Linked DNA regions of Homo sapiens. The protein of the gene in region 1 interacts with the protein of each later gene in a pairwise test. Each region holds a gene or a part of one and is shown on either strand. Other genes may lie near its edges.

Region 1 (5,247 bases):
GTTGTTTGGAACTGGCCACAAAGAGTTGTATTTGTTGAGTAGGTTAGAAACATGTCAGATAATAGCTACAGGCACACAGCAGCAGCAGCGATATTTAAAAGATATCAGATATGTAAATTAGTCTGTTATTCTTGTGTTCTAGAAAATGAAAGACACTCATATGGAAGATTTTCCCAAAGACAAAGAAACAAACCGGGATTTCCTACCAAGTGGAAGAATTGAAAGTACAAGAACTAGGGAGTCTCCACTAGATACCACAAATTTTTCTAAAGAAAAAGACATTAATGAATTCCCACTCTGTTCACTTCCTGAAGGTGTTGACCAAGAAGTCTTCAAGCAGCTTCCAGTAGATATTCAAGAAGAAATCCTTTCTGGAAAATCTAGGGAAAAATTTCAAGGGAAAGGAAGTGTGAGTTGTCCATTACATGCCTCTAGAGGAGTATTATCTTTCTTTTCTAAAAAACAAATGCAAGATATTCCCATAAATCCTAGAGATCATTTATCCAGTAGCAAACAGGTATCCTCTGTATCTCCTTGTGAACCGGGAACATCAGGCTTTAATAGCAGTAGTTCTTCTTACATGTCTAGCCAAAAGGATTATTCATATTATTTAGATAATAGATTAAAAGATGAACGAATAAGTCAAGGACCTAAAGAACCTCAAGGATTCCACTTTACAAATTCAAACCCTGCTGTGTCTGCTTTTCATTCATTTCCAAACTTGCAGAGTGAGCAACTTTTCTCCAGAAACCACACTACAGATAGCCATAAGCAAACAGTAGCAACAGACTCTCATGAAGGACTTACAGAAAATAGAGAGCCAGATTCTGTTGATGAGAAAATTACTTTCCCTTCTGACATTGATCCTCAAGTTTTCTATGAACTACCAGAAGCAGTACAAAAGGAACTGCTGGCAGAGTGGAAGAGAGCAGGATCAGATTTCCACATTGGACATAAATAAGCATATTCAGCAAAAAGGTCTGAAAAGCAAGGGAATACCATTATTTTCGGATTAGCGGTTTATTAAGCTCTTCTATATTAAACACTAATAGATATTCAATAACGGAGTAAACTGTTCCAGATAAAGCAAGAATAGTTGCAAGAAGTAAATTCTGGCACAAAGCGTAAAAATATAACAGAAGAAATAATGTAAAATACTATCTTTTATGTCTAAAGCCATTTTATATTACTTTTCAATAAAAAGAATATCATGGTCAACATAGAATATTTTTCATGAATTGGTGGGGAGATGTATATGTTTATATATAAAAAATAGCCAAATCGTTGCAATGATATGGTAAAGGACACATTTTTTTTTTTTTTTTCCTGTGAAATGTGGAATATCTCAAATTCAGCCTCTTAGGCTGAATAGCAAATCCTACTGCCAACTAACCTATTAAAAATATAGATAGTTTTGACTAAAGTACTACATTACATTTAGTATGTTGACTTTTAAAATACCAAAGCAATTTATATTCAATTAATGCTTCTTCATACACCAAGAATCTACCACAATACACAGCACACAAAGGCCGTTCAATAAACATTGAATGAATGAATGGTTTGGCTAGGGCCAGGGTGGGGAGTTAAAGTGAGAGGAGGGTATATGTTATAGAGAACAGTGGTAGAAGGAACTCTCCGTGCAAGTAAATTAAGGGAAAGATGGACACCAGAAAGGCAAGGTGATGGGCCTATAAGCATACTGGATAATGGAAGAAGTCCATTTCTTTCTAGCTAGTTTGAAGGGCCTAAAAGCACTGAGATGTTTTTGTATCTTCCCTACATTTGGAGATGATATTAGGTTGTCATAACAACCACAAATATAGACCATTACTAAATTGGTGGATGTCCTCTTTCTCCCATTGTTATTGCCTTCCTCTTTTGCCTGCTAAACTAAAAATTGGATATAAGATTGAGAATGTATTATATAATTTGCAAGACATAGAGGATGTTTATAGAATATACTAAAGTATCCCTCAGCACCAATATGGGAGTATCCTGGTCTCAAGTTTATAATTTTTGCACATATAATCTAAAGAAGAGACTTTAAAAATAAAGTACACAAATATGAACCAAAGAGTAGCTTAAAAATACTTTCTTCTAGGTCTGAAATTTTCTTTTCTTTCTTTTTTTGTTTTGGAGACAGAGTCTCACTCTGTCGCCCAGGGTGGAGTACAGTGGCGCAATCCCAGCTCACTACAACCTCCGCCTCCCAGGTTCAAGCAATTCTCCTGCCTCAGCCTCCTGAGTAGCTGGGATTACACGCATGCCCTACCACACCCAGCAAATTTTTGTATTTTTAGTAGAGATGACATTTCACCATATTGGCCAGGCTGGTCTCGAACTCCTGGTCTCAGGTGATCCTCCACCTTGGCCTCCCAAAGTGCTGGGATTACAGGTGTGAGCCATTGCTCCTGGCCCCAGCTCTGAAATTTTAACTTAGTTTTGGATTCCTTGGAATTTGAAAATATGCTAACACGAAGGATTGTAAATAGGTAGTTTGAGGTTATCAGGAACAGTAACTTGAAGCAAGAACATCAGAAATTGTTCACCATGCAAATATTTAGTACTCTGAATCAAGGAACATAGTATTTTTTACATGAGTATTCCAGTAAGGTAATTAAACTTATGAAAAGGGTATATAACTTTTTGTAAATCATTAAAACATTTTATAGTCCTTGTAATGATTTCAGGACCTTGGACAGCTAGAAGGGGCTTAAGAAAAAATGGCTAAGAAAACAAAGTAAATGGTTTTGGCCAGCTTAAAAAGAGAAAGCAAAATAGTTAAAAATACATTTCATAGATTGAGAATGTACGGGCTATGTCACAGTTACGCTACTTATTTTGTGGTTTTAAGTTAGTCTCAACATCTTTGGGCCTCAGAATCAACTTTTTTATGGGATCTTTTTTCTCTGTTTTTAAGATTATCTCTTTTTTCTTTGGTGCTTTGCAGGTTTACTGTATTATTTGGAAGTGCGAATTTATTTTTATTCTTAGTATATACTGGCTTCTTCCTGTATCTTTTAATTCATGTTCTGTAAAATTCTCAACCACTAGCTCTTCAAATATTTCTTCTCTATTCTAGGACTGTATACAAATGATAGACTTTCTTACTGTATCCTTCATGTCTCTTAATTTCTCATATTTTTCATCCTCTTGTTTCTCTTTACTGCATTTTGGGTAATTTCATCAGCTCTATCTTTCTGTTTACTAGTTCATTTTTCAGTAGCATCTCACCTGCTATTTAAAACAATGATGGTTTTAATTTCAATAAATATATTTTTCATTTGATTCTTTTTAACTTCCCGTTTACTCATTACAGTCCCTTGTAAGTCTGTTTCTAATTTTTAAAAGTCAAATATATGATATTTTTGATAATTTCAATATTTTAAGTCTTTATAAGTCTACATTTAAGGTTATTATTGCATATCATTGTGACTTATTTCCTTGAGTATGTGTTAATCTGCGAGAAGACAGAGGGCCTAAATTGTGTATGTTTTCCTTCAGTATGATTTGAGTTCGTTGCTTCTCTGGGTGAGGTGGTACAAACTCCTTGGCATACTCTATTCACCTTTGTGGATCCTGATTGAATGCCTTGTCTTAAGTGTAAGCTCCCTGACCCTTACTACTAGCCGAAGGTTTTGTCTCTGCAGGTCAATTCCAAACTAACAGGCAGATGCTGTTAGCTATCTGCCTCCAGGGATAAACCCCATCTTTCAAGCTTGCTTCTTGCTTGATGCTTTCTGCTGCTTTCTTGCTTTTGTTTCAGCTCGAGTTTGTTGTTGTTTTTTTTTTTTCCTGTTTCTGTCTTGAATGTAGAGGGTATTTTTATTTTTATTTTTTCTGTTTCTCTCTTGAGTGTATAGTGTAGAGGGGGTTTCTGTCTTGAGTGTAGGCCTGGAGATTTCCCTTATATGGTACAAACCAGCAATGAATTAAGAGGTCTCTTTTCTCCAAGATCTAGTGTTTTGTACTAGGAGAACTCTAAAAAGTATCTATTCCACTGTAGTGCCAAAGTACAAATTTATTTGGATTTATTTTTTGCCATCTTATTTTTTAATATATTTCTTTTTCTATGTTGTGCTTCTTTCCCACCTTTATCTCTCCTCCTATCTTTTGGGATCAGTTGGGTTTTCTATTTAATCATATATTTTCCCTTTACTGATTTGGAATGTGAATGTTACAAGTCCTTTTGATTATCCTTAAACATCTAAAAATGCTACCCTCTTTCCAAACAACACAAAGGTATTGAAATAACATTAATTCTAATTAAATTCCACAAGTTCTTTATTAAATCTCCAAATTGGATATTATTAGTATTTTATATAGTCAATGTTTATTTTTTTGATGGGACATGGTGGGGGCTTACCTTTTTTCTTGTGTGTCAGATGTTCCTTCTAGGTAGAATTCTTTATACCTTCTGAAATTATGTCCTTAGAGCTGTAGATTTAGAACTGACATCTCTTGAGCTGTTCTAAGATAATATCTTTTACTTTGGAGATACGCAGTTTTTATTATATGTCTAGCTATAGATTTATCATGGATTTAGGTTCATTATGAATCTGCAGATTTGTGTCTTCCATCAAATCTGGATTGTTTTCAATATTAAAAAAACTTCTATTTTAAAATCTGTATATAGAAAGGTACATAAACATAAATGAACATGTTAATGAGTAATTGTAACAACTATGTAACTGTCCAAGTCAAGAAATAAAACATATCAAGTAATCAAGAAGTCCAGAGTTTTCTTTGGGGTTTCATTACGTAGGCATGATTTATTAAAACCTTTACTGTGTGCTTGAACTTAATCTCCAGTTTCCCTCCTCTGTCTGGACATCAGGCTGGCTCAAAGTCTCAACACCCTAATCATGGTTGTTTTTTTGAAGTGAGCTACCTCCATCCTAAATCATCTTTTTAGCATTAGCTGTCTAGGGCCCACTGTGGGTCACATCATTAGCATACAGTGTCAGGGCTTACCATGAATAATGAAGGCACTTCTGTTGTTTAGGAAATTCCATGGGTTTTAGGAGCTTGGTGTCCAGGAACCCTGAACGAAGACCAGACCAATTATACTACAGAATCTTTTTTTTTTTTTTTTTTTTGAGATGGGGTCTCGCTCTGTCGCCCAGGTTGGAGTGCAAAGGTGTGATCTTGACTCACTGCAACCTCCATCTCCTGGGTTCAAGTGATTCTCCTGCCTCAGCCTCGAGTAGCTGGGATTACAGGCACCTACCACCACACCCAGCT
Region 2 (7,144 bases), on another chromosome or scaffold:
GACCAAATCTGGGACAATTTGGTCATTAAAAAGAAAGACGACTGTAACTGGTTATAAAACAAGGAATAAATTAAAACCCATGAGAGTCTGAAGTGGTATCATTCACCCCTGCCCCAAAAAACATCATTGGGGGTGGCTATTTCTCCAGCTCTTTACTATGAATATTGAAAAGTAAAGAGATTAAATTTAACATTTAATTTGCATTTTGGGGAAGAACAATAGTTTACCTGCACTTAATGAAGGAAATCTCTTCCTTACAGAGAACCTCCAATAACTGATTTAAGCAAAAGTCATCATGGGTGCTAAAAACCACTAAGCAAAAGATTGTCAGAAACTGGGTATTTGCTTAGTGTCCAAGTTTTACCCCAAGATTACATATTAATCACAAACTGGCAAACCACACCTTTACAACAGATCAGTAGTCAGCACTTTAATCAAATGGTTACATTTAGCATCATTAATAGTGTGGGAATCTGACATTGTGTGCCTCCTATATTATGCAACAGGAGGTACACAGCATCACCTATTAAATATTCTTGCCAAAGGAAGTTTTACTTTAAGCTAATTAAGCCTTCCTTTACACCTAACTTCCAGTTAATAGGAAATTCAGGGAGAAAGAGGAATAAACGAAATGACATTAGGAGGGCACAAATCCAGAATGTGGGTATATTTTACAAGACAACTGGTTTGGTCAATTACGTGTCAGAAAAAAAGAAGGGAGGGAATATTCATCCTATTTAATTTCCCCTGCAAAAAGAAGAGGGGATGGATACTCTTCATTTTACAAAATGACTAAAGACTTAATCACCAAATGCAATCAATGCATGAATCTTGACTGACTACAACTGGGGGCAGAACCCTCAAAGACACTTTGGAACAACTGAGGAATTTTGAAGATGGAGTTGTTAATTTTGATAGGCATTAATAATGATACTGGGGTTAGTAGGAGAATGTCCCTATTTTTAGGAAACACATGCCGAAATATTTGAGGATTACAGTGTTTGCAGCTTACTTTCAAATAATTACACACATACAGAGAAAGACAGGAAACAATATGGCAAAAATGCTAATCACTGAGTTGGTTATTCATTGCATTGATTAGCATTTTTATTCATTGCATGAATAACCGATCACAATTGTATAGAACGAACCTCTATACGACTAAAATTTTTCATAACAAAGTTAATAAAATTGTACTTCTATTGAGAAGTACGGTAGAAAGTACACGAAAGTACATCTATACTGGAATTATATTTGGGTTGAAATCTAAACTATCTTACTAGTTGTGTGCCCTAAGGCAAGTTGTAATTCTTCGTATCACTAAGTTTGTCACTTCTATAAAATTCAAGTAATAATATCTGCATCATTAGGTTGTTCTGAGAATTAAATAATTACAAATGCAAAAATGCCAAGCAGTACTGCACAAAATGAATAATCTGGTTTTCATAATTAATCAGTACATTACTAATAATCCTAAAATACAAAACTAAAGGACTACGTTCATTATATTCACATTCTATGATAAGGGGAAACTACATTAGGTAAAATTATTATTAATCCACTGACAGTCCAAGTGAAGTAATGGGGGAAATGAAGATTTATACAGTATTTTTTAAACCCAAGAATTCCAACTGAACACCTAGAGAAAAGGAAATCAAAATCGTGCAGCTTGCTTCCGGTATCAGCCGATCTCCAAATAAAGCATTAAGAAAATAAGTGGAAGTTATGGAGAATTTCTTCCTGACTTCAAGAGATTATCTACTTACACGCTGAAAAAGAAATTAAGTTTTTGTCTTCATTTTTGTAAGTTCCAAAAAAAAGCACACAATTACGGGGTTTTATTGTAAATTCTGCTTGGATTCATAGAACTCACATGGACGCAATTTCCTTTTAATCAGTTCTAACGTACCTGTCATTTCTCGAGGTAACCCCTTTTTCTGATTAGGCCAGCAATAAAACGACTAGATGCAGAGTGATCCTCAGGAAGGAAAGGAAAAGAGGTGTGTGTGTGTGTGTATGTGTGTGTGTGTTTGTGTGTGTGTATATATATATATATATATTTTTTTAAAGAAGTGCCATCTTTTTCTTTCTGTACCAGAGAAAAAGCAGAAGGGGAAAGGAGGAAAAAAAACAGGTCTGAGCCTCCCGGGTTCGACCAGGTGAGAGGTGGCAACACTCCGGCCGCTCCGGGTTAGGGTGTTGGGCAAATGGGCGTGCAAAGGACGGGCAGCTCCCTGGAAGGTCGGGGTAACTGCTCCGGGACCGCGGGGCCCAAGGCCGGTCTCCTCCCAGAAGGATTAAATGCCACCGAGGGGATCCCGTGGGGTGTCTCCCGGCGCGGACTAGGCTGACAGACCCGGCTCTCCGCTCCCTTCGGCGCCAGGTGGGGGCCACGCGGTGTCAGCCACGGGCAGCGTGCAGGGGCCGTCCCCCGCGCGACCGGAGCCCGCCCTCCCCTCCCCGTTACCTGCGGGCGGCGGCGCCGGGCCCGGAGGCCTGCTGCTCCTCCTCCTTCTCCCGCCAGGCTGGGGCGGCGAGGCGGCGGCGGCGGCGGCCCGGGGGGAGGGGGCGGAGCGCGGCTCGCTGCCTCTCTCCTCCCCCGGGAGGCTCAGGGGCCCCTATCTCGGGCCGCCGCGCCTAGGCCCGTGAGCAGCCTGTGGTGGGGCATGGCGGCACAGCCACCGGCGTGCCCGCGAGTGGGAGTGCGAGGAGGCGGGGAGGGAAGCACCCCCAGCGCTCGGAGGGGCCAGAGGGGAGGAGCGAGGGGGCCCGGGAGCCGCGCGCTGGCGACCGTTGGGGACGGTTGGCCGAGGGCAGGCGGTTGTTTGGGGAGCGCGGCGACGGCTCGCGTGTTCCCAGCGGGGCGGGGTGGGGAAGGGGAAGGGGACTGAGGGGAGGGGAGGGGGAGGTTGGGAGGGAGCCGCCGCCGCGCGCGTGCGGCCGGCGCCGCCGCCGTTGCCGCTCCGCTCACTCCAGCCTGTTTGGGGGCACTTTGTTTGTGTCCCACAATGCTCTGCGCCGGCGGCCTGGCTGGGGAAGGGGAGGAGAAGGGGGCGGGGCGGAGCGCGCTCGGGGGCGGGGCTCGGGGCGGGGAAGGAAACGTGATGATTGCGCAAGCGCAGAAAATGGGCCCTCTTGGCCGTCGGGACTTGTACTGTTGGTGACTCCGTCTCCTTAGACGGTGGAGCCTGCGTGACCCAGAAAGGCCGTGAGTCTTGACACTGTATTTTTGCATATGTGCGCACATGTGCCGATTTACATTCACATGCCCCATAAGCCCTGTCCCATTTGTCCTTCCTCTAAGCCGTCCTCTTACCCAGTTCCCCTCTCACACCTGAGAAGCATTTCTCCGCAGGAGTCACATTTATAGCATTATTTTTTTCTTCGAACTAAAAACATAACTCCTATTTTCTCGGGTAGTTTTTGTAGGGAGGTCGAAATAGAAACACTTCAGCCCCTCTTCGGCGAGGGAGGTTAGTTGGTAAGGTGCCCATTGTTCACCCATGGAAACAGGCCTGCCAAGGGCCGCCCCGCAGACAGGTGAGCCCGCGCCCCCGTCCTGGGCGGACTGCGACATGCGGCGGGTGTCTGGATTGCGTGGCTCCTCGGGCCTCCTCGCAGTGCTTGCTCTCTTCCGTTCTAGCACTTGCCTCGGTGACCTGGCAGGACGTGCGGTTCTTGAGATGAGTGGAGAAACGGACTCCCAGGTCCCTCTCGTTCTTCCAACACAGGGACAGCTAGAGCTGCTCCAAAAATATACCCTACTTCTTCCACAACCGTGAATCTGTCATTTTTACTGCACCATCACTTACTTCCTGGCCTTCCCGGAGGAAGTGTGCGGGCCTCCCCGAAGTAACCGGTACCGCCCGGGGGGTTTTGAAGTTCTTGGTCAACTGCAAAATCAATCAACCTAGTTAACTCCTAGGGCCCTAAGTCTTGGCTTCCCCTGGCCAGGCGGGCGAGCGCTCTCCACACCGCCCCCGGAGGTCATAGGGGTTCCCGGGACTGCAGGCGGCAGCGCCCCAGGTGCCTGGGGGCGGGCGGGGTGCGGGCAGGTGCTCCTTGGGCGCTTTCTGTTTTCCCACGCCTCCAGTTTGCAAACCGAAAGACTTCTTTCCAGAGGGTTTTGTGCAAGGTGGGTGGACGTCCCGCTGAAGTAGAGTGGATTTTCCTTTTGAAACACTTGGCAACATCTCACATTAATTCACTCTGAGAGACAAGCAGCCAAGCACCTGAACACCCTGACACTTGCAATCTTCTTTAGGAATAAAGGCAATAAAAACAACTTCTGTTTTTATAGTCCTTCGCAGTTTCCAACAAGTTTTCAAGCATGTATAATGTTATCTAATCCTTACGGCAACTGTAATTCACAGGTTTTATCACAGGTTTCTATTATTATTCCCACTATCATTCTTATTATTCCCATTTCAGAGATGAGAAAAATCAGAAAGATGCGAACTAGGCCCAGAAACTTTTGCACTAAGTTTTGAAGAGGGGAAGGGAAAGAAGGCGGAATGCTTACCTGGGAGAGGACTGGCGGCCACAGAGCAGGGCTCAGGAAAGGGCATGAGCTGGGGCCCTGGTGAGGAATGTGTGAGAATGTATGTAGGTGGTAAGCAACTGGACAAGAATCAGGGTGGAAATGAAGTAGTCAAATCCTATCTACCTCTCCTAGTGCCTTTAACAGGATAGTCAATAAAAGACCATGAGGCAAGTCTTTTCTAAGTGCTTCTCCAGGGGCTGTGGTGGCAGCTCCTCAACTACTACACTGACACAAAAATTTGCTTTCCTTTGTAGTACAACTTGAAGTCAGGTAGAGGAATGCCTCTAGCTTTGTTATTTTTGCTCAGAATTGCCCTAGCTTTTCAGGGTCTTTTGTGGTTCCATACAAATTTTAGGATTTTTTTTTCTAGTTCTGTGATGAGTGTCATTGATATTTTGGTAGGGATTGTACTGTACCTGTAGGTGGCTTTGGGTAGTGTGGATATTTTAACAATATTAATTCTTTCAATTCATGAGCGTGAGATATCTTTCCTTTTTTTTTTTTTTTTTTTTTTGTTCTCTTCATTTTCTTTCATCAATGTGTACACTTTTCCGGGTAGAGATTTTTCACTTCCTTGCTTACATTTATTGCTAGGTATTTTATTTTGCTTTTTTGTAGCTATTGTGAATGAGATTGTTTTCTTGATTTCTTTTTCAGATTGATGGCTGTTAGCATATAGAAAATCAACTGTGCTGGGTGTGGTGGCTCACGCCTGTAATCCCAACACTTTGGGAGTCCAAGGCAGGCAGATCACGAGGTCAGGAGTTCAAGACCAGCCTGGCCAACATAGTGAAACCCCATCTCTACTAAAAATACAAAAAAGTTAGCTGGGAATGGTGGCACGCGCCCGTAGTCCCAGCTACTTGGGAGGCTGAGGTGGGGAATCACTTGAACCCAGGGGGTGGAGGTTACAGTGAGTCGAGATCGTGCCACTCCAGCCTGGCGACAGAGCAAGACTCCATCTCCAAAAAAAAAGAAAAGAAAAGAAAATCAATTGATTTTTGTATCCTTCAACTTAACTGAATTCGTTCATCAAAGTTCTGAGAGATGGAGTCTTTAGGTTTTTCTAAATATAAGAACAAGTCATCTGCAAACAAGGATAATTTGACTTCTTCCTTTCCAATTCAGTTGCCCTTTATTTCTTTCTCTTGCCTAATTGCTCAGGTGAGGACTTCCAGAAATATATTGAATAGGAGTGGTGAAAGTGGGTATCCTTGTCTTGTTCCAGATCTTAGTGGAAAGGCTTTCAATGTTTTCCTGTTCAGTGTGATATTAGCTGCGGGTTTGTCATATATGGCTTTTATCATTTAAAAACTTTTCTTCCCTTAGATTATTCCCTTGTCTCCTCTGCCTTTTCCACTTAAAAAATTTTTTTTTGGAGACAGGCTCTCATTGTGTTGTCCAAGAGTGCAGTGGTGCAATCACAGCTAAATACAGTCTCAAACTCCTGGGCACAAGCGTCCTCTGGCCTCAGCTTTCCAAATAGCTAGGACTACAAGTGCGCCACTGTGCCTGGCTAATTTTAAAAATTTTTTGTAGAGATGGGTCTTGCTATGTGAACTTGGGCTCAAGTGATCCTCCTGAAGTGCTGGGATTACAGGCATAAGCTACCATACCTGAGCCCTTTCCTGCTTTTCTTTCTCATTTAACATTTAAATATTTTATCATCCTTCCACTCCACCCCCACCTCAGGTCTGAAGAATTTATTAACGAACAAATGACCGTGAGGCCCTTCAGAGCTCAATGCTAGATGCTTGGAGAGGGTGTGAGAAAATCTCAAAGAAGATTAACTTTGCAGGAGCCCTCTTGTCTGCTTTGGCTCTGGGCAGGGTCAGTTTCTGTGGCTTCTGCAGCCTCCCACCTTTTTCCTTCTTGAGCTGGTAGAGACTTGCCTCTGGGTTGCTGGAATATACACACCTTTCTTTGACACTAGGTTAAATAATACTGCTGGGAGGATTTTGTGAAATCAGAATCCTGTACACAGGTGAAAAAAACAAATGTAGACAGTATGAGGAACCTTTAATTATTAACTTGGTGTGGATGATTCTGAGGAATTCAAATTCCAGGCAAATTCCAGGAGTTATATTTCAGCCACGAGCTCTTTGGGGGAATAAATTCTGCAAAAGATGGCACTTCCTTGTGGAAGACCATTATAACTGAATGGAAACTTAGTTATTTAGTCCAAAAGCATTAGCATTAAGGCATGAATCCTTTCTACCCGACCTTGCCTCCTTATTAGATTAGATTATACAACTACATATATAAAAAATTAATCTCACTCTCTTACCCTAAAATTTATACCTCTTCTAGTGTTCACATTTTACCATTCACCCAGTGAAGCAGGGTGACTTTGCTACTTTACTACTGTATCTCAATTCCAATCCATCAACAAGTCCTGTTGAATGTGTCCCTCTCCACTGCCACCGTCCTAAAATAAGATGATACTAGCTTGTGCCTGGAGAATTATAATACCACTCACGTGGTTTCCCAAATGCACTCTCCCTTTTCCTCATTCTCTACATGGTCGCCAGAGTTGCAATGCATAGCAGTGATGTCAGCCAACAATGGCTTCCTATTGCTCCCCGGATAAAGTCCCAAACC

What was found. Proteins that work in one complex are often made in the same cells at the same time.
Region 2: the proteins of POLI (region 1) and ZBTB44 interact in binary tests that used the Homo sapiens proteins (3 or more experiments, as listed by UniProt).

What each region holds. Positions count from the first base shown.
Region 1 is NC_000018.10:54,293,507-54,298,753, forward strand, and holds the end of POLI (DNA polymerase iota isoform a (long)), read left to right. Parts: intron 1-142; coding exon 143-961; 3' UTR 962-4,728; downstream 4,729-5,247. UniProt on the Homo sapiens protein: Error-prone DNA polymerase specifically involved in DNA repair. Plays an important role in translesion synthesis, where the normal high-fidelity DNA polymerases cannot proceed and DNA synthesis stalls. Favors Hoogsteen base-pairing in the active site.
Region 2 is NC_000011.10:130,311,908-130,319,051, forward strand, and holds the start of ZBTB44 (zinc finger and BTB domain-containing protein 44), read right to left. Parts: upstream 3,011-7,144; 5' UTR 2,468-3,010; exon of another isoform or gene 1,910-2,467; intron 1-1,909. UniProt on the Homo sapiens protein: May be involved in transcriptional regulation.